Regions from separate parts of the Homo sapiens genome. Here region 1 is linked to region 2. The links come from fine-mapping of genetic effects on gene expression. Tissue or cell type: testis. Region 2 holds a variant in brackets; the other region holds the start of a gene. All regions are shown on one strand. Distances are between the middles of the regions.

Region 1 (9,909 bases), 66 kb after region 2:
AGAGTCTCTCTCTGTTGCCCAGGCTAGAATGCAATGGTGTGATCTCGGCTCACTGCAAGCTCTGCCTCCCAGGTTCAAGCGATTCTCCTGCCTCAGCCTCCCAAGTAGCTAGGATTACAAGGACCCGCCACCACACCTGGCTAATTTTTGCATTTTTAGTAGAGATGGGGTTTCACCATGTTGGCCAGGGTGGTCTCAAACTCCTGACCTCAGGGGATCCGCCCACCTCAGCCTCCCAAGGTGTTGGGATTACAGGCGTGAGCCACTGCACCCGGCCGAGGATTATTGAACAAAGAGAGGAGAAAGAGCAAGAGCCCAGATGGGTAAATGTCTCAGACAGGGAAAAGGTTAACTCCTGCAGAGACGTGCCTGGCAATGTCTGGAGACATTAGTGGTTGTCATGCCTGGGGGGAAGGGGATCCTCCCAGGACCACATGGGTGGAGACCATGGTTCCAGCTCAACACTCTACATACAGGACAGCCCCCACCACCAGGAATGATCCAGCCCCAAATGTCAGCAGTGCCAAGATTGAGAGTTCTGCTTAAACCAAAGAGGAATGGAAGTCAAGGGTAGAGTGGGGTGAGGTGGGGAGCCCTGGGGACTCAGCCCACACCCTGTGGTCTCTATGCATGAATGGGGAAGGGCAAGAAGCAGGTCTCCAGGAGAGAAGCAAAGAATAAGAATAACTGCAGAGGCCAGACACCGTGGCTCATGCCTGTGATCCCAGCACTTCGGGAGGCCAAGGCAGGCAGATCGCTTGAGGCCAGGAGTTTGAGACCAGCCTGGACAAAATAGCAAGACTTCAGCTCTACACATTAAAGTAAAAATTAGCCAGGCAGGGTGGCGTGTGCCTGTGGTCCCAGCTACTACGGAGGCTAAAATAGGAGGATGGCTTGCGTCCAGGAGGTCGAGGCTGCAGTGAGCCATCATTGCCCAACTGCACTCCAGCCTAAGCAACAGAGCAAGACCTCATCTCAAAAAATAATAGATAGCTAGAGAGATAGATACAAAAATCACACTGATTTTCCTCCACCCTTCATCCCAATCAAAATGCCATATTGGGCCCGGAGTGATGGCTCACACCTATAATCCCAGGTCTTTGGAAGGCCGAGGCAGGCAGATCACTTGAGGTCAGAAGTTTGAGACCAGCCTAACCAATATGGCGAAATCCCATCTCTACTAAAAATACAAAAATTAGCCAAGGGTGGTGATACACGACTGTAATCCCAGCTACTCAGGAGGCTGAGGCAGGAGATGCACTTGAACCTGAAAGGCGGAGGTCGCAAAGATCGTGTCACTGCACTCCAGCCCGGGTGACAGAGTGACACCCTGTCTCAAAAAAAAAAAAGAAAAAAAAAAAGGCCAGGTACGGTGGCTCACTCCTGTAATCCCAACACTTTGGGAGGCCGAGGCGGGTGGATCACAAGATCAGGAGGTCGAGACCATCCTGGCTAACACAGCAAAGCCCTGTCTCTACTAAAAATACAAAAAATAAGCCGGTGTTGTGGAACACGCCTGTAATCCCAGCTACTGGGGAGGCTGAGGCAGGAGAATCCCTTGAACCTGGGAGGTGGAGGTTGCAGTGAGCTGAGATCGTGCCACTGCACTCCAGCCTGGGTGACAGAGCAAGACTCCGTCTCAAAAAAAAAAAAGCCATATTGGTTGACATTAGAGATTAATGATCTGAAAAGTTCTTTGCCCCTCCCCAAGCCTTCAAGAGGCATCACAGCCCATTTATTTGACAGGATTTTGTTCACCATCACCCCAATCGTGGGGGGTACGGAGGCTCGGACTCAAAAGAACAAAGATTTGTTAAGAAACCATTGCTCTGCAGCCACACTAGCTAGATTGCAATCCCAGCCCTGCTGCCTGCTGGCCTCAAGCGAAGTTTTCTCACTTGTGAAAAGGGAAGATTAAACCGCACCTCGTGGGGTTTTGCCGTGAGGATTAACTGAGATTATATATGCAAAGCGCATAGAACAGCACCTGCTGAGAGCTTGCTCTTCTAATTCTTAGGAAGGTATTATGCAGAGAATAAGGAACTCCTTAAGATGATAAAGGAGCCCAGTACACCCAGGAACTCCACCACTTGTGCCCCACTGCAGAACAAATATTTACTGAACACCTACTATGTGCCAGGCATCGTTCTGGGCTCTAGAAATGCAACGGTGAACAACAACAAACCATAAACCCCTGCCCATATGGAAGCCATAAATGTGCAAAGAAATGGTAAATCCATTTACTGACCCTGAAAGCCCAGGCACAGATCCACAATTAATTACCAAAGCTACAAGGAACAGAAGAACAGGGAACCACACACACGCACACATAGAATCTGGCATAGTTCGAAACCACTCATCTTGGATTTTCTTTTTATTTATTTATTTATTTTTGAGACAGAGTCTCGCTCTGTCGCCCAGTGGCACGATCTTGGCTCACTGCAAGCTCCGCCTCCCGGGTTTACGCCATTCTCCTGCCTCAGCCTCCGGAATAGCTGGGACTACAGGCGCCCGCCACCACGCCCGGCTAATTTTTTCTATTTTTCAGTAGAGACAGGGTTTTACCGTGTTAGCCAGGATGGTCGTGATCTCCTGAACTGGTGATCCACCCGCCTCGGCCTCCCAAAGTGCTGGGATTACAAGCGTGAGCCACCACGCCCCGCCTTTTTTTTTATTTTTTTGAGACAAAGTCTCGCTCTTTGGCCAGGCTGGAGTGCAGTGGTGCCATCTGAGCTCACAGCAACCTCCTCCTCCCGGGTTCAAGCAATTGTCCCGCCTCAGCCTCCCAAGTAGCTGGGACTACAGGCGAACGCCACCAAACCCAGGTAATTTTTGTATTTTGAGCAGAGAAGGGAGTTTCACCATGTTGGCCAGGATGGTCTCCATCTCCTGACCTCGTGATCCGCCCGCCTCAGCCTCCCAAAATGCTGAGATTACAGGCTTGAGCCACCGCAGCTGGCCAGATTTTCTTAACAAGAACTCCAACTAACCGCCACCCTTCATTGAGCACCTACTGTCTCCCAGGCACCTGGGGGCGGGGCTGGGGGGGGGTGGGCCCGGGGCTTTTAGACATTATGTGATTGACAGAGTCGACTCAGCAAACCCGGTTGGTCCACTCTAGCACCTGATTTTACATGCACCCGTTTCCCCATCAATACATTTAAGAGCTTCAATTCCTTCCCTCCCTGACCCCTTCCTCATCACGACTGATTTCCTTTTATGGAGAAATCTGAAACAGTAACCCAACAGATATTTTTAAAGCAGGGCCTCAGACCCCACAGTGGGAAACCCAGGCTATATTCCTTAAATGATTGCGCCATCTTCATCTTACAACCCCAAAGGTGCCTATTGTCAAGCCCAAGGAAGATGCTGCCCACACGTGGGAGAGGGGCCCATGGGGTCAGGGGGAACGAAAGGCTCACTCAAGGTCAAAGGCTCCTTCATGAAGCGCAGGGCTGAGGGGAGAGGAGGGGTCAAGGAGACAGCAGACAAGGGACAGTAGTCCAGATTCTTGGGCAGAACGGGACACACAGAGGCTCAAGTCCTGGCTCTGGCACTGACTTTAGGGCAAGGGAGTTATGCGTCCTACATGAGCCTCAGTTTACTCCTCTGTGAAATGGGTGCATAACTGTATCTGCCTCCGGGGGCCACTGTGACAGTCCAGAGAGATAAGATAGACTAGGCTGTGGCGTGCGGTGATACCAATTACAATAAATAGGGTAAAAAACCGCCACTACTTCTGCTACAATTGCTGCTGTTGCTAAGGCTTTAGAATTTGCCTCCGGACATCTGGAAACAGAACCCAAAAGGGTAAACATGGACCTAGAGTCCGGGGTGGCCACGGGCCTAGATCCAAGGTAGTTGGGTAGAGGGGGGCTCTGCAGTCCCTGACCCCAGGCAGCGTCACCCACCGGTGAGGCACTCAGGGCGCTTGGCTCTACCTACACCATATGCGCTCGGGGGACTTGGCTGTTCGGGGCTGTCCAGACCCAGTGACCCCACTTCCCGGCCGCGACCCAAAGATGACGCGTGTCGTGTCTCCGGAGCGACTTGGGCTCGGAGGGGCCGGGGCACGGGTCGGAGGCGCGCTCCAGAGAGGAGCCCGCGGCGGGGCGGGCACCGGGGCAAGGTTCCTCGGGCTCAGGTCGGGCACGCAGGGCGCGGAGGCGCGAGCCCGGGCGGGCAAAGGCCAAGGTCAGAGGCTTCCCGCTCCCCCTACGCGATGCAGGAGCTACCGTCCTGGCCACCGCCCCCCGCCCCTGGGGAGGGTTCTCAGTCCACAAGCGGGGGCTCGATTTTGGCTTGGGTGGGGTCCTCTCCCCATCGCGGCGCTCCCCGCCCACGCCCGCGCCCCCAGACTCACCCTCTCCGGGGTACAGGTGGCCCGCGGCGCCCAGTAGCAGCGCGGCCACCGCCACCAGCAGCGGCGCGGCCGCCGCCCCCCGCCGGCCCCCGGTGGCCATGGCTGCGGGAGCGCGGGGTCTCCTCGGATCAGAGCGCGCGGCGCTGGCCCGCGGGGGTCATGCTCCGAGGCGGCCACCCAAGAGGCGCTGGGGGCCGCGCGTCCTTCTCTTCCACGCCCGCGACCCGCGGGCCGCAGCCCCCCTGCCGGGGAGGGCCCAGAGGCAGCCCCGGGAAGGGCGCGCGCGGCTTCGCCAGCTACAAATACTGAGCGGAGGCCCTTGCGGTGGTGGCCCCGACCCCCCGGCCGCTGCGGCCCGGGCCCCGTCCCAGGATCTCGGGGCCCGGAGCTCCGCGCTGCGCCCGGGACTGTCTCTCGGCTCTCGGCCCCGCGCGCTCTGGGTCGCGATCTGCGGGCTCCGGGACAGAGGGACGCGCGGACCGACGGACTAGCTGACTGGCGGGCGGGCACCTGGGCTGGCGGGTGGCGGGCGGGCGGCGGGAGAGAGGGCTGCTCGGGCCCGTAAACAACGCGGCCCGTCAGCTGGGCCCCGTGCGGGCCGCGGGAAAAGGCGGCGCGGATCTGGCCTAGGAAGGGACTCTGCGCCCGGGAGAGGCCCAGGAGAGGGAGGGAAAGCTTGCAGGGGAGGGAGGTGCCGCCCGGCCCCGCCCCGCCCCGCCCGCCTCCCCGCCTCCCTGTGCCGGGCCCCGCGCGGGAGGCCCTGGGCGCGCCGGGACCGAGGGCGCGCCCCAGATCCGCGCGCCCTACAGCCCCGAGTCTCCTCCAGTTTCAGACCCCCGGAGGCGCCCCACAGGCCCGACGCAGCGGCACAGATCCTTTCTCTACCATTTTGCTATTTTGTTCATAGTGGGCTTTGGAGGATTCCTGTTGATTTTTTAAAAAATACTGCATTAAAATGTTTATTTTGGTGACTCGAGGTGGTTTTGGTTTCTTTCTTTTTTTTTTTTTTTCACTCCCTTAAATTTTGCACCCCAGGCGAGTAGTGTCTCACTCGCCTTTCCTCAGTCCGGGCCTGGCCAGCGACACTCGTCCCAGAGCGCGTGGGCGCCCCCAGATGTCCCGCCCGCGAGTGCGCCCCGGCCCAGGGGCGAGACCCAAGCCAGGCCCCTGGGGACAGCCACGTGCCCGCGTGCCCAGTGCGCTCCCTGTGTTCAAGTTGGAGAAATGACACCTGGAAAAATGTGCAGACGCTTCTGAAAGGGCAAAGACGACGCCAAAGAAGACGCCGGAGACCTCGAATAGGGCGCAGGTGGACATCTCTGATTTTCAGCAGACCAGCCTGTATGTGTCTGAAGTCTAGCAACGACATTCACCAACAAGGCGGGACAGCGGTTCCACCTACCTTACTGCAGGAGAGGAAGGGGCTTTCAGTATAGGAAAGCCAGAACTCAATGGGAGGAGGGTTCCTCCACCCCTCACTCCTGTGTGGTCTTGGACCAGGGACTTTTCTGTCTCTGGGCCAGTTTCACTTGTGTAATGGGTTTAATAATACCTGCATGCCAGTTCTGGGGAGGTACCCGGGAAAGAAAACTTAAGAAAGCGCCCAGCACAACCCTAGACCCAAGGCATTCATTCTTCTTTCATTCAATAAACAGTTTGCTAGGAGCTGGACCCACTGTTCATGCAACAGGCCAAACCTATTCCTGCCTCTGGGCCTTTGCCCCAGCATTTCCCTTGCCCGTAACACTCCAGGATGGCTTCATCTCTGAAGTGCCATCCCTAACCATATTTTTGCAAATCCTCCCCCCAGTTCCGTTTCCTTCTCTCTCTCTCTCTCTCTGTTTTTTTTTTTTTTTTTTTTTTTTTTTTTTTTTTTTTTTTTTTAGATGGAGTTTTTCTCTGTTGCCCAGGCTGGAGTGCAATGGCCAGATCTCAGTTCACTGCAACATCACCTGCCTGGGTTCAAGTGATTCTCCTGCCTCAACCTCCCAAGTAACTTGGATTACAGGCATGCGCCAGCACACCCAGCTAATTTTCTGTATTTTTAGTAGAGACAGGATTTCACCATGTTGGCCTGGCCGGTCTCAAACTCCTGACCTCAGGTGATCCACCGGCCTTGGCCTCCCAAAGTGCTGGGATTACAGGCCTGAGCCACTGCGCCTGGCCCCTTCTCTCTCATTTTCATAGCATGTTTACCCCACTACCTGCAATTGTTTGTTTTTTTTTTTTCTTTTCTTTCTTTTTTTTTCCTTTTGACAGAATCTTGCTGTCACCCAGGCAGGAATGCAGTGGTGCAATCCTAGCTTACTGCAGCCTTGAACTCCTGGCCTCAAGCAATCCTCCTGCCTTGGCCTCCCAAGGTGCTAGGATTACAGGCATGCGCCACCATGATTGGCCTTGAAATTCTTATTCGTTTTCTGTGTCTTCTCCCCTTCCCGTGAAGGCGGAAATCTTTTCGGTCTTGTTTCACTGCTTAAACCCAGTGCCTGACAAATCTGTTGCTTAATAAATATTTGTTGAGTGGGAGAATCAACAAGCAATAAGTAATAGGGGATTTTTCAGTGAGCAAAATAAACATGACCCATTTCCTTATGGAGTTCACAACTGAGCCAGGGAGAGAGCCCTTAAAATAATTGAGTGTGTAATGAGCTGAGGGAAATGGGAGGTGCATAGGGAGGGGTTTGCTGAGGACATGGGGTTTTTTGTTTGTTTGTTTTTTGATGGATCTTACTCTGTTGCCCAGGCTGGAGTGCAGTGGCACGATCTTGGCTCACTGCAACCTCCGCCTCCCAGGTTCAAGCAATTCTCCTGCCTCAGCCTCCAGAGTAGCTGGGATTACAGGTGCATGCCACCACGCCTGCCTAATTTTTGTATTTTTAGTAGAGGCAGGGTTTCACCATATTGGACAGGCTGGTCTTGAACTCCTGACCTCAAGAGATCTGCCTGTCTCGGTCTCCCTAATTGCTGGGATTACAGACGCGTGAGCCACTGCACCTGACTGAGGATGTGATTTTGAGCTTAAGTCTGAAAATGAAGAGGAGCCATCCTAGGGAAGCCATAGGGATGTGTTTCAGGTGGGGGAAGGCATGAGCAAAGGCCCAGAGGAGAGTGGGCAAGGCATTCTTGCAACTGAACCAGGCATTCACTGTAGCTGCAGAAAAGAAAGAGGAGAAAGTGAAGCCATGGGTGAGAACTGCAGTGGGCCCTTGAACATGAGTTTGAACCGTGCACATCTTTTTTTTTTTTTTTTTTGAGGCAGAGTCTCGCTCTGTCACCCTGGCTGGAGTGCAGTGGAGCAATCTCAGCTCACTGCAATCTCCACCTCCAGGGTTCAAGCTATTCTCCTGCCTCAGCTTCCCAAGTATCTGGGACTACAGGCACACGCCACCTCACCCGGTTAATTTTTGTATTTTTAGTACAGACGGGATTTTACCATGTTGGCCAGGCTGGTATCGAACTCCTGACCTCAGCTGATCTGATCAGCCTCCCAAAGTGAGGTCATCTTTAAACAGAATGTTTTTCAATAAATATATTGGAAACATTTTTAGAGATTTGCAATAGTTTGAAAAGACTTGCAGATGAACTTGGTAGCCAAGAAATATTAAAAAAAAATTAGGTATGTCATGAATGCATAAAATATATGTAGATACTAGTCTGTTTTATTATTTTTGTTATTATTTTCTTTTAGAGACAGGGTCTTGCTCTGTTGCCCAGGCTGGAGAGCAGTGGCCCAATCATGGCTCACTGTAACCTCCAACTCCTGGGTTCAAGCGATCTTCCTGGCAAGCACCAACACGCCCGGCTAATTTTTTTACTTTTTATAGAGACGAGGTCTCACCATGTTGCCCAGGCTGGTCTCTAACTCCTGAACTCAAGTGATCCTCCTGCCTCTACCTCCCACAGTGCCGAGATTACAGGTATAAGCCACCATGTCCAGCCCTATTTTATAATTTGCTAACATAAAATATACACAAATCTGTTACAAAAAGTTAAAATGTATTAAAACGTACACACACACTTACAAACCATACATGGTGTTATTCCAAGTCAAGAGAAATGTAAATAAATGTAAAGATGCAGCATTCAATCATAACTGCATAAAATTAACTATAGAATATATTGTGTTATTGTAACAATTTCATAGCCACCTCCTGTTGCTACTGGAGTGAGTGCAAGTGTTGCAAGTATCCGCTTTAAATGCCATGTTACATTAATTATCTCCCTGTGGGCAGTTCACCTCTCCAGGAATTTGTGCCCCGGTAAAAAGGGATCTCTTGGCGGTTCCCGCGTATTTTTCACTGTGTTTAGTGCAATACCGCAAACATTGAATAACATCCTGAGACCCATGTAAAGTGCCACTAGTGATGCTGGAAATGCTCCCGAGAAGCAGAGAAAAGTCAGGACAGGACAAGAAAAAGTTGAATTGCTTGCTACGTAACATAAATGGAGCTCTACAGCTGCGGTTGTCTGCTTCAGACAGACAATTCATCTTGTAAACAAATTTATGGCATTGATAAATATTGTAGCGTTCTGTAACTGTAAATGTATTTTCTCTTCCTTGTGATTTTCTTTTTCTTTTTCTTTTTTTCTTCTTTTTGGAGACAGGGTTTCACTCTGCTGCCCAGACTGGAGTGCAGTGGCACCATCAGGGCTCACTGCAGCCTCTACCTCCTGATCTCGGGTGATCCTCCTGCCTCAGCCTCCCAGGGAGCTGGGATTACAGCCACATGACACCATGCCCAGCTGTGATTTTTTAAATAACATTTTCTCTTCTCTAACTTGCTTTATTCTAAGACTGTAGTGTGTAGAGGCTGGGCACAGTGGTTCACTCCTGTAATCCCAGCACTTTGCAAGACAGAGGGAGGCGGATCACTTGAGGTCAGGAGTTCGAGACCAGCCTGGCCAACATTACAAAACCCCATATTTACTAAAAATACAAAAATTAGCCAGGCGTGGTGTGCTTGTAATTCCAGCTACTCTGGAGGGCTGAGGCATGAGAATTACTTGAACCTAACAGGCGGAGGTTGCAGTGAGCCAAGATCATGCCACTAGCGCACTCCAGCCTAGGTGATGCAGTAAGACTCTATCTCAAAATAATAATAATAATAAAGTAAGAAAGAAAGAAATACAGTATGTAATACTTGTAACATACAAAATGCCTGTTAATCGGCTGTTTATGTTATTGCTAAGTCTTCAGGTCAACAGCAGGCTATAAGTAGTTAAGTTTTCAGGGAGTCAAAAGTTATATTCAGATTTTCAACTCTGTAGGGGTGAATTGGCACCAGTAGCCACAACACTATTGAAAGGTCAACTATAAAAAGTGCAGAACCTAGAATATGCCATGTTAAGATTTGCTTTGGGGCTGGGTATGGTGGTTCATGCTTGTAATCATAATCCCAGCACTTTGGGATGCCAAGGTGGGTGCATCACTTGAGCCCAGGAGTTCGAGACCAGCCTGGGCAACAAGGCAAAACCCTGTCTCTACCAAAAATACAAAAAAAATAGCCAGGCATGGTGGTGGGTGCCTATAGTCCCAGATACTCAGG
Region 2 (10,795 bases):
AGGAAACAGCTGTGTCCTTGGGGAGGGCCAGGCTGTAGGTAACTACGCTTCCTTAGAGGAAGCTATAGGTATAAGGAAGTTTGCTTACTCCAGGGACAGGGAGGCCAGCTCCCTTGCAAAAAAGGCAAAGAGGGAGGCCAGTGAAAAACTGGCTAAAACTGTCTGGGCACTGTGGCTCATGCCTGTAATGCCAGCACTTTGGGAGACTAAGGAGGGCGGATCACCTGAGGTCAGGAGTTTGAGACCAGCCTGGCCAGCATGGCAAAACACCATCTCTACTAACAATACAAAAATTAGCCCAGTGTGGTGGCGTGCACCTGTAATCCCAGCTACTCGGGAGGCTGAGGCAGGAGAATTGCTTGAACCTGGGAGGCAGAGGTTGCAGTGAGCTGAGACTGCGCCACTGCACTCCAGCGTGGGTGACAGAGTGAGACTCTGTCTCAAAGACAAACAAACAAAAAAAACCAACTGGCTAAAACTAAAGAGGTTACCATGTGCCACTCACTACACTTTACATGTCACAAGCATTAATTACCTCATTTGATTTTCACCCAAACCAAGAAATGGAAGTATCTAGAGAAAGAAGCCCAGCATAAAGACACAAGGGAGCATTTTTGGAGGTAACCATTGACAGAAATGAGTTAAAGAAAATTCAACTGGTGTCCAGGCTCTGGTGTAAAATTCTGCTTTGGGGTGAAACGCAGGGTTACCTGGGCACACTGTGATGGTCCTGGCTAACCAGTAGCAGGTGGGCTTTTGCAGAGATAATCCAGGGCCCTGTGATGAGTTGGTCACCCTAGTGACCCAATTTTGGCCTCCAGATATTGGCTTCTGGCCAATTCTAGGAGGATCAGGAAGCCAAATTTAGCACAGAATGTGCTGCTTCTTCATTGAACTCCTATTCACCCTTCAAAACCCAGTACAAAAGTTCCCTTCCTCTGTAAGGCAGAGTATAGCAAGAAAAGCTAGGGTTCTGAAGCCAGAGAGACTGTGGGTTCAAATCCTAGCTCTGTGAAAAGATTGTTGTGAGGACCATGTGCCTGGGAGACAATACATGCTCAATAACTCTATACAGCTGGTGCTCAGTAGTGACTTATGGATATTCCCAGGTGCTTCAAAGCCCTCAACCTGATGGATATTACTCTATTAAACCCAAAATTTCCCATCTTCCCTCCTCTAAGCCACCAGAATAGACTGGAACAAAAAAAAATTTTTTTTTTTTTTGAGACCAGTCTCGCTCTGCCACCCAGGCTGGAGTGCAGTGGCATGATCTCGGCTCACTGCAACCTCTCCCTCTTGGGTTCAAGCCGTTCTCCCACCTCAGCCTCCAGTAGCTGGGACTACAGGCGTACACCACCACACCCAGCTAATTTTTGTATTTTTAGTAGAGACGGGGTTTCACCACGTTGGCCAGGATGGTCTCGATCTCTTGACCTCGTGATCCGCCTGCCTCAGCCTCCCAAAGTGCTGGGATTACAGGAGTGAGCTACCACACCAGGCCAATTTTTTTTTTTTTTTTTTTAAAGACAAAGTCTTGTGACATGCTCAAACCAGCTCATGCAAATCTCCGTTTCAGTCTTTCTCCCTCAACCTCAAGCCCTGACACCAAGCAGGGCTGTTTTCCAATTGGCTTTTCCTCTGCCAAGAATTTCCCCAGAGCACAAACAGAGGCGTGCAGCGAAGTAAACACGGGAAGCTCTGAAAACCCATTCATGGGCAACTCAAAGGTGTCGAGACATCAGGGTGTGTGGCCGAGCTTTCCGCCATGGGGGCAGCGAGCCTCCACGAAGCCCAGGCGACTTGCCGACGGCCCCACTCCAGGTGACCAAGCCACATCTCGACCAGAGGAAGGAGAACATACAAAGAAAGACACTGTCTCTGCCGGAGGGCGATGGTCCAGGCAGTGCACCCTGGGCGAAGGGGCCAAGAAGCCGTAAGATGTGCGTCCCGAGGAAATGCACCGTGGTTATAAATACAGCAAAGAGTGTTTGGATGAAGCTGGTGTCTGAAAGTGGAGACAGTCCTGGCTAACCAATAGCAGGTGGGCTTTTGCAGAGATAATCCAGGGCCCTTTTCACAGAGACCTAGGGCTGTAAGGAAGTCCCCCAAACGCCCAATAAATATCCAGGTTCTTGTCTCTAAATTAGCTGGCTGAAGAAAACTTGGTCCAAACTGCATCAGAGGTGGGGGTGGGGGAACAGAGGAAAGAAAAGGGGATGAGAGAGAGACAGACAGACAGACAGACAGACAGAGACAGAGAGGGGAGTATCCCATTAAGGCAGCAGGGCAGCAGCAAAGAGGAGAGAGGAGGGGAGAGGGGAGGTTGTGGCCACATGCTGTGTAACACTTAGAGTTTCCTATGCACCCAGCACTATTCCAATTATTAACCATTTATTTCCCCCAACAATCCTAGATGTTCCCATTTTACAGAGGAGAAGACTGAGGCACAGAGAGGTTCAGTAACCTGCCCATGGTCACACAGCTATTGAGCGGCCGAGCCACAAGAAGACACTTGCTCCATCAATGTTACTGTGGGCCAGTTGCCGTTATAGGTGTAAGATGATTCCTCAGGGAGAAACGCTAATGTTCCCCTTCCCCGACACTTTCTCCAGATCAGCTTAGGGGTGCTTGAGTGCCTGACCCGCCACCCCCGCCCCACCACCAAGCCAAAATGCTTGAGTGACACTCTCTGATTCTCCAGTGTACCATGTCACCAATTAGGTGTTTCAAGAGGGGCTTCCAAGAGGGAAGGACCTTTCTGTTTTCTTCCCTGTGGCTATGTCCTGACTCCCCAGCCCAGCACTTGAGTAATACATAAACCCACCTTCATTAAATGACTATCATCATATTCCTCCAGATTCCTTGGTCCCCCAAGTCTAGGGACGTGGTTTTTGTCGGTAGCATGGCAGTGTCAAACCACAGAGCCACGAGGCTGATGATGGGCTCTTGGTTTCCATTTCCCCCCCCTCAAAAAAAGAGCAGAGAATAATTGCAGAGTGCCCCTCACCCCCATTCCAGCACCCTGGTCCAGGGGTCCTCAAATGGAGGCGATTCTGCCCACCAGGAGACACCTGGCAGTGTCTGGAGACATTTGTGTTTGCCATGCCTCGGGGGCGGCGCTCCAGGCATGGAATGGGTGGAAGCCAGGGATGCTGCTAGCACCCTCAGTGCCCAGGACGGCCCCACCCCAGAGAACAATCCAGCCCCAGTATCCGCAGGCCCCAGGTGGAGAAACCCCGTCCCGGAATGAGAAGCCCCTCTCCTCCACCACATCAAAGCCAAGATGACAACGTCTCTGAGTTTGACACAAGGTTAGGGGGAAGTCTCATTTTTCAAATGGCTGGCTGTAACACTAAAAAAGGAAAATTAAAAATGTCTGAGGATCGGCCTAGTGTGGTGCCTCACGCCTGTAATCCCAGCACTTTGGGAGGCCGAGGTGGGAGGATCACGAGGTCAAGAGATCGAGACCATCCTGGCCAACATGGTGAAACCACATCTCTACTAAAAATACAAAAAAAAATTAGCTGGGCATGGTGGCGTGTGCCTGTAGTCCCAGCTACTCAGGAGGCTGAGGCAGGAGAATGGTTTGAACCTAGGAGGTGGAGGTTGCAGTGAGCCAAGATCGCACCACTGCACTCCAGCCTGGCAACAGAGTGAGACTCCGTCTCAAGGGAAAAAAAAAAAAAAAAAAAACAACTCTAAGTACCAACTGCAGTGGCTCCTGCCTGTAATCCCAGCAATTTGGGAGGCCGAGGCAGGAGAGTTGCTTGAGCCTGAGAGGTCAAGACCATCCCTGGCAACATAGTGAGACCCCATCTCTACAAAAAATATATAAAAATTAGCCAGGTGCGATGGTGTACACCTGTGGTCCCAGCTACTCGGGAAGCTGAAGTGGGAGGATTGCTTGAGCCCAAGAGGTCAAGGCTACAGTAAGCCATGATCACGCCACTGCACACCAGCCTGGGCAACAGAGCCAGACCCTGTTTCCAAAAAAAAAAAAAAAATGCCTGAAGGAGGAGGTGAATCCTAGAAACAGCCCAATTTCATCTCCATATACCCCTACTCCAAACAGGTTTCCAAATTGCAAAAATGGCTGATAAAAAAAATTCTTTAAGCTGATGTAAAAACTAATGCCCTCCTCCTCCTGCCAATTTTGCTACTCTTGAGCAAGATCTCAGCAGCTCCACTTGGATGCTGGAAATATATGCCAGAGGAGACTTATGATGCTAATTTCCTTTAGTAAACAGTTCAAATCTTGTCTTGGACACCAATGAAATAAGAAAAGCTAGCCACAGGCTGTGTGGAATTCCTTCCTCTTAACACTAAGCATCAGGCATTCCATGACTTTTGCTCTTGGGATGGCAAACATGAATGTTTCTAGAACACTGAGTTTTCCAGCATATACCTTTTCTGGTTATTTTCAATAGGTTTGGTGTGAAAAATTAACGAATTCACTATTTGTTGCTGGACAGTCCCTCTGGAACAAAGAACTGTGTGTCAAATACCAGCTGAATAATCAAGCAAACATTTGCATTCTTTTTTTTTTTTTAAAGACAGGGTCTGGCTCTGTTGCCCAGGCTGGAGTGCAGTGGCGTGATCACAGCTCACCGCAGCCTCAACCTCCTGAGCTCAAGCAATCCTCTCAACTCAGCCTCTCAAGTAGCTGGGACTACAGGCATGCACTACCACACCTGGTTAATTTTTGTATTTTTTGTAGAGATGGGGTTTCACCAAGTTGCCCAGGCTGGTCTCAAACTTCTGGACTCAAGCGATCCGCTTGCCTCAGTCTCCCCAAATGCTGCAAATACAGGCATGAGCCACTGCACCCGGTCAACATTTGCATTCTCGTCGAAAGATCACGTGCTTTTTCCAAAGCATGTGAGAGTTTTGCATCGACTCCAGCCAGCTTAGACCTAATGTGGGTCCTCCCCTTTCACCAAGAGGACCCGGCTATTGCAGATGCCCTTGCAAGTTACAAAACATGTTCTCCATCAAGCCACACAGGGTTATGGATCGGAAAGGCAGCCCACCCTGATGAAAACCACAGTCGCGGTACAGATTGTTTTGTTTTTGTTTTTGTTTTTCCAGAACACTGATATGTATCCTCAATGGTTAACAT[T/G]GTGTCCTAAAAGGTGTTTTTCTGTTTCTTAACATACCAGAAACAAGATGGTCTGAGACCGCGACCTTCACACTAGGGTCATATTTCAACACAGAAACCAGGGTAGCATCACCCAGAAAAAAAAAAGGGAGGGGAGGTAAATCAGACTGTCCCAAATCTAGGGCCTCTCTCAGGGCACAAGAAACAGCCCCAGAGGGCCCCCATGGGTCCTGCTCCCTAAGGCCATTTGTCCCTCTTCACTGTGGTACAGGGTGGTTCTGAAACGCACCCTAACTTTAGTGATGACACAGGGTCCGGCAAGTATCCAGACCTATAGTCCAGCAGACTTTCCATGAAGACCTGCCCTAAAATGAATATCGACACTTGGCCAGAAGCAACAAAATAACATTCCACTCTGCTGGAAAATTGAGGCGGGGGCTTAAAGGCTTATTTTAACAGCTTAACAGCTTAGCAAAATAAATCTGCTGTCATTATACACAGACAAATGTCGTTTATGTCTCTTGCATCTATGAGACAATCAAGATTTCATGATCACACCCCATTTACTCAGTGAGGCTAAAGACAGGAAGGTCAAGAGTATTAACAATTATATAATTATCCTCTGCAGTAAAACAATTGAGGCATTCCACTCAAATCAGAAATGAGACTGGGCTGACCATATTCAGCTGCGTCACTGAACACTGTTCTGGAAGTTCCTGCCATAACAAGGTTAACAGCAATAACTGGTCTAATTATTGGCAAAAGGCAAGAAGTCATCATTATCTGCAGATGCTGCAATTATAGAGTTGGAAAATTGAAGGGAATCAATTGCAGGGCTTTTAGAACTAGTAAGCATTTAATAAGGTAGCAGTAAGTAAAGAAAACACAATCCCTGTCCCCTATGCTACAAAATAATCACTTTTAATACTTCAAAACATCTCCCTTATATTAGATGATAGACACACGGATAGATGGAGAGATGAATGGACACATGGATGGGTGGATGAATGGGTGGGTGGAGGGATGGATGAATGAATAAGTGGATGTATGCATGGGTGGATAGATGGATGAGAAGATTGCTGGGTGAGTGGTTGGAAGGGATGGAGGGACAGGTGTGTGGATTGTTGGCAGAGTAGACAGAAGGATGGATGGATGGATGGATGGATGGACGTCTGGGTGGGTGGATGGATGGATGAATGGATGAGTGGATGTATGGATGGATGAATGGATGAGTGGATGTATGGATGGATGGGTGATTGGATGAGTGGATGGATGGATGGGTGAGTGAATGGATGAAGGGTGACTGAATGAATGGATGGGTGAGTGGATGGATGATGGATGAATGGGTGAGTGGATGAATGGATGGATGGATGGATGGATAATAGATGGTGGGTGGTGAATGGACTGGATGAATGGATAGATGGATGGATGGATGGGCAGATGAGCAAGTGGATGGAGGGATGATGGATGGATGGATGGATGGATGGATGGATAGATGGATGGATGGATGGATGGATGGATGGATGGATAGATGGATGGGCAGATGAGCAAGGGAGTGATAGATATAAAGCCAGCAATCTAAGAACAATGCTTACAAGAAGTAGACAAACTGTGTCTGAAGCAAAATCACAAAACATTTCTAAGAACAGGAAAGAACCCTTGGGAAAATGGAGAGGAAATCCATGACATAGGAGAGTACAAGTAAATACTGCCAAGGTGCTCCTTCTCTCCATCAATTTATGGACTTCACATACAATCAACCCCATAAAGGGCCTCTGGGTCTGTGTTTTCCTTTTCCTTTGCTTCCCTTTTTCTTTCTTGGAACTTAGCTACAGTTTTTAAACTTTTGGAAGCATAAACAAAGCAAGGATGCTTTTGAAAAATGAAAAAGAAGAATTACTCTGGAGGATACATTTACAGTCTTTTTTTTTTTTTTTTTTTTTTTGAGACAGGGTCTTGCTCTATTGCCCAGGCTGGAGTGCAGTGGCACAGTCATGGCTCACTGCAGCCTCGAACTCCTGGAGTCAAGTGATGCTCCCACCTCAGCCTCCCAAGTAGCTGAGACCACAAGTCAGTGCCACCATGCTCAGCTAATTTTTCTTTTTCTTTTTTTTGTTTGTTTGTTTTTGTTTTTGTAAAGATGGGGTCTTGCTGTGTTGTCCAGGCCGGCCTCAAACTCCTGGCTTCAAGGAAGTCTTCTGCCTCAACCTCCCAAAACACTGGGTTTACAGACATGAGTCAGCGTACCCGGCTCAGAACTTTTATCCATATTGTTCTCGGCCACATTCTCAGAGGCTCGCACAGCACCTGGCTCTCAGCAGATGGACAGAAGGCACAGGTCAATGAATGGGCAGCTTAGGTAGGGAAGATGGATTTGAAGGCCATGTAAGCAGTTAAAGGGATGGGACTCAGTAATTGATCAGGTGTAGCAATGAGGGAGAGAAAGATTCCCAGCTCTAGACTGAGGTCAGGCTGTGAGCTCAGAGCAAAGCCTGCAGTTCATCTTGGTAGCAGCTGGATCACTTTGAGCACAGTGCTGACCTTTCTGTCAGCCTCAACTTCTCCCTCTGCAAATTAGGAATCCTAACAGTGTCCACCTGGTGAGGTCACTGAGGCGATGACAGGATAAACCACACCAAGTGTCTAGCTCATAGCATGGTACTCCACCTTTCAGAAATATTACCTTGGCTGGGTGAGGTGCTTCATGCCTGTCATCCCAGCACTTTGGGAGGCCAAGGCAGGTGGATCACCTGAGGTCAGGAGTTCGAGACCAGCCTGGCCAACATGGTGAAACCCCATCTCGACTAAAAATACAAAAATTAGCCGGGTGTGGTGGCGGGCATCTGCAATCCCAGCTACTTGGGAGGCTGAGGCAGGGAGAATCGCTTGAATCCGAGAGGCGGAGATTGCAGTGGACTGAGATTGCACCACTGCACTCCAGCCTGGGTGACAGTGAGACTCCATCTCAAAAATAAAAAAAAAATAAAAAATATTAGCTCAAGGCCTCCTCTAGGAGAGATTAGGTCAGACTGTTCCTCCTGCAGCAAGGCCCTTTGCAGTATGGAAAAACCTCAGAGGTCTGTGCAGAAGAGAGACTATCTAGGGACAGATTTCAACAAAGCCAGTGCCAAGGAGGCGCGTGTCTACAGCGGAGCTGCGGCCTTTAGAAGCCTCCAGCCTCCCCTCCTGGCATGGACACAGGGAAGCCAACTCCCTTGGCCAGAGCCAGGAGCCAGGAGCCACACCAGCTCGCTGATTTCCAGAAACTCACAATTGCCCACTTACTCGGCACAGCCTGTGCGCCACGGAGGAAACTGGAAAGGAGGGATCTCCTTGGAACATTCTGGCAGCTCAGCAAAGAGGGGGGAAGAATTAATTTCGGATCCTGAATTTGCATCTGCAAATGCTGTTTTCGTTCAAACGCTTTGTGTTGTCTTGTTTTTGGTGGTGTTTTTTGTTTTTTTTTTTTTTTTTTTTTTTGAGATGGAGTCTCTCTCTTTCGCCCAGGCTCTAGTGCGGTGGTGTGATCTCTGCTCTCTGCAACCTCCATCTCCCAGGTTCAAGTGATTGTCCTGCCTCAGCCTCCTGAGTAGCTGGGATTACAGGTCCCCAACACCACGCCCTGCTAATTTTTGTATTTTTAGTAGAGACAGGGTTTCACCATGTTGGTCAGGCTGGTCTCGAACTGCTGACCACCAGTTATCTGCCCACCTTGGCCTCCCATTGTGCTGGGATTACAGACATGAGCCACGGCACCCGGCCCTGTGTTGTCTTGATAAGAGTTTAAAGTGACTGGATGTTGGGGCTATATATCCACCACCAACAACCTGCCATACATCCTTTTACCCTCAAATTTTTGCTCTTTGAATCCTAACTGCTCCTGGCAGTAAACCCCATCTAGGACTACCTGCCAACATACCTTAAACTTTTCTGTCTCTTTTTTTTTTTTTAATTATAGAGACAGAGTCTCACTATGTTGCCCAGGCTATTCTTGAACTCCTGAGCTCAAGCAATTCTCCCACCTCAGCCTCCCGAAGTGCTGGGATTACAGGCATAAGCCACCACACTCAGCCAAACTTCTCAAACAATACTCTTCTTAAGCCATATCTCAGGCTCTCATATGCCCTACTTTTTGCATGAGGCTAACTATTTCTTTCTCTACCCGCTTCTTCAATAAAACCAAACTAAACAATAATAATCAACAATGGTGATAGTAATCATTGTAACACCTCATTCCCGGGGGTACTGGGAATTCACTGGAAAGGGCTGGGATGAGGCAATGTCCTCCATTTTGTTTTCAGTGGTGGTTACACAGGTGCATATATTTTTTGTCAAAATTCATTGAACTCAATGCTTCAGATCTGTGCATTTTATTTTATTTTATTTATTTTGAGACAGAGTCTCCTTCTGTCACCCCGGCTGGAGTACAATGGCCTGATCTTGGCTCACTGCAACCTCCGCCTCCTGGGTTTAAGCGATTCTCCTGCCTCAGCCTCCTGAGTAGCTGGGATTACAGGAACGCACCATCACGTCTGGCTAATTTTTGTATTTTTAGTAGTTGGCCAGGCTGGTTTCAAATTCCCGACCTCAAGTGATCTGCCTGCCTCAGCCTGTCAAAGTGTTGGGATGACAGGCGTGAGCCACTGCACCCCGGCCATGTGCATTTTATTGTATGTTAAATATTTCAGTTGTTGGCCGGGCCCAGTGGCTCGCACCTGTAATCTCAGCACTTTGGGAGGCTGAGGGTGGATCACGAGGTCAGGAGATCGAGACCATCCTGGCTAACAAGATGAAACCCTGTCTCTACTTAAACTACAAAAAATCAGCCAGGCGTGGTGGCAGGCGCCTGTAGTCCCAGCTACTTGGGAGGCTGAGGCAGGAGAATGGCGTGAACCCGGGAGGCGGAGCTTGCAGTGAGCCGAGATCCCGCCACTGCACTCCAGCCTGGGCAACAGTGCAAGACTCCGTCTCAAAAAAAAAAAATTTCAGTTGCTAAACTTAATCAAAGAAATAACAGTAGCTACAATAGGTCACAATGTACAGCTGCAATATAACTACAATGCTAGCAACAATGTAACTACCATGTTTATCATTCCCGTATCCTCTTCTCTGATCCTCACAACGAGCTTGTGATACATGTTGGGTTTGGTTTTGGTGTTGATTTTTTGAGACAGTCTCCCTCTGTCACCCAGGCTAAAGTGCAGTGGCGCCACCTCGCCATCTCGGCTCACTGCAACCTCCGCTTCCTGGGTTCAAGTGATTCTCCTGCCTCAGCCTCCTGAGTAGCTGGGATTACAGGCACCAGCCACCACACCTGGCTAATTTTTGTATTTTTAATAGAGACGGGGTTTCACCATGTTGGCCAGGCTGGTCTTGGACTCCTGACCTCAGGTGATCCACCCACCTCAGCCTCCCAAAGTGCTGGGATTACAGGCGTGAGCCACCATGCCCAGCCTGTGATACCTTTTGGTTCCCATTTTACAAAAGAGGAAACAGATCCCGGAGAACTCCAGTGGACTTGCCCAGAGCCCCACGGCTACTAACAGGTTAAGCCTGGTTCCAAACCATCGTACTATGCTGTGTGGCCTGGCATGTGCTAGGTAGGGGGAGAAAGAAATGAAACATGACTGCAACTTTTCAGAAACTTCTACAAGCAAGCCCTGACCCCGAGTGCTGGGAACCACCCTATCAATGAAA

What was found. PIP is the estimated chance that this variant, and not a neighbour inherited with it, causes the effect.
Region 1: INSR starts here. The variant in region 2 is fine-mapped to the expression of INSR in testis (GTEx, PIP 0.91).

What each region holds. Positions count from the first base shown.
Region 1 is chr19:7,289,429-7,299,337 of GRCh38, forward strand. INSR (insulin receptor) reads right to left here and starts at 4,986. Exons shown (of 22, transcript NM_000208.4): 1 at 4,364-4,986. The coding sequence starts at 4,463. RefSeq lists an enhancer at 3,428-4,186 and silencers at 4,168-4,227, 4,278-4,417, 4,558-4,837, 4,858-5,247, 5,388-5,567.
Region 2 is chr19:7,222,741-7,233,535 of GRCh38, forward strand. The region is part of intron 2 of INSR (insulin receptor); the gene reads right to left. Among named protein-coding and RNA genes, the nearest start is that of INSR, 66 kb to the right of the region's middle. The variant T/G (reference allele first, on the strand shown) is at 5,120.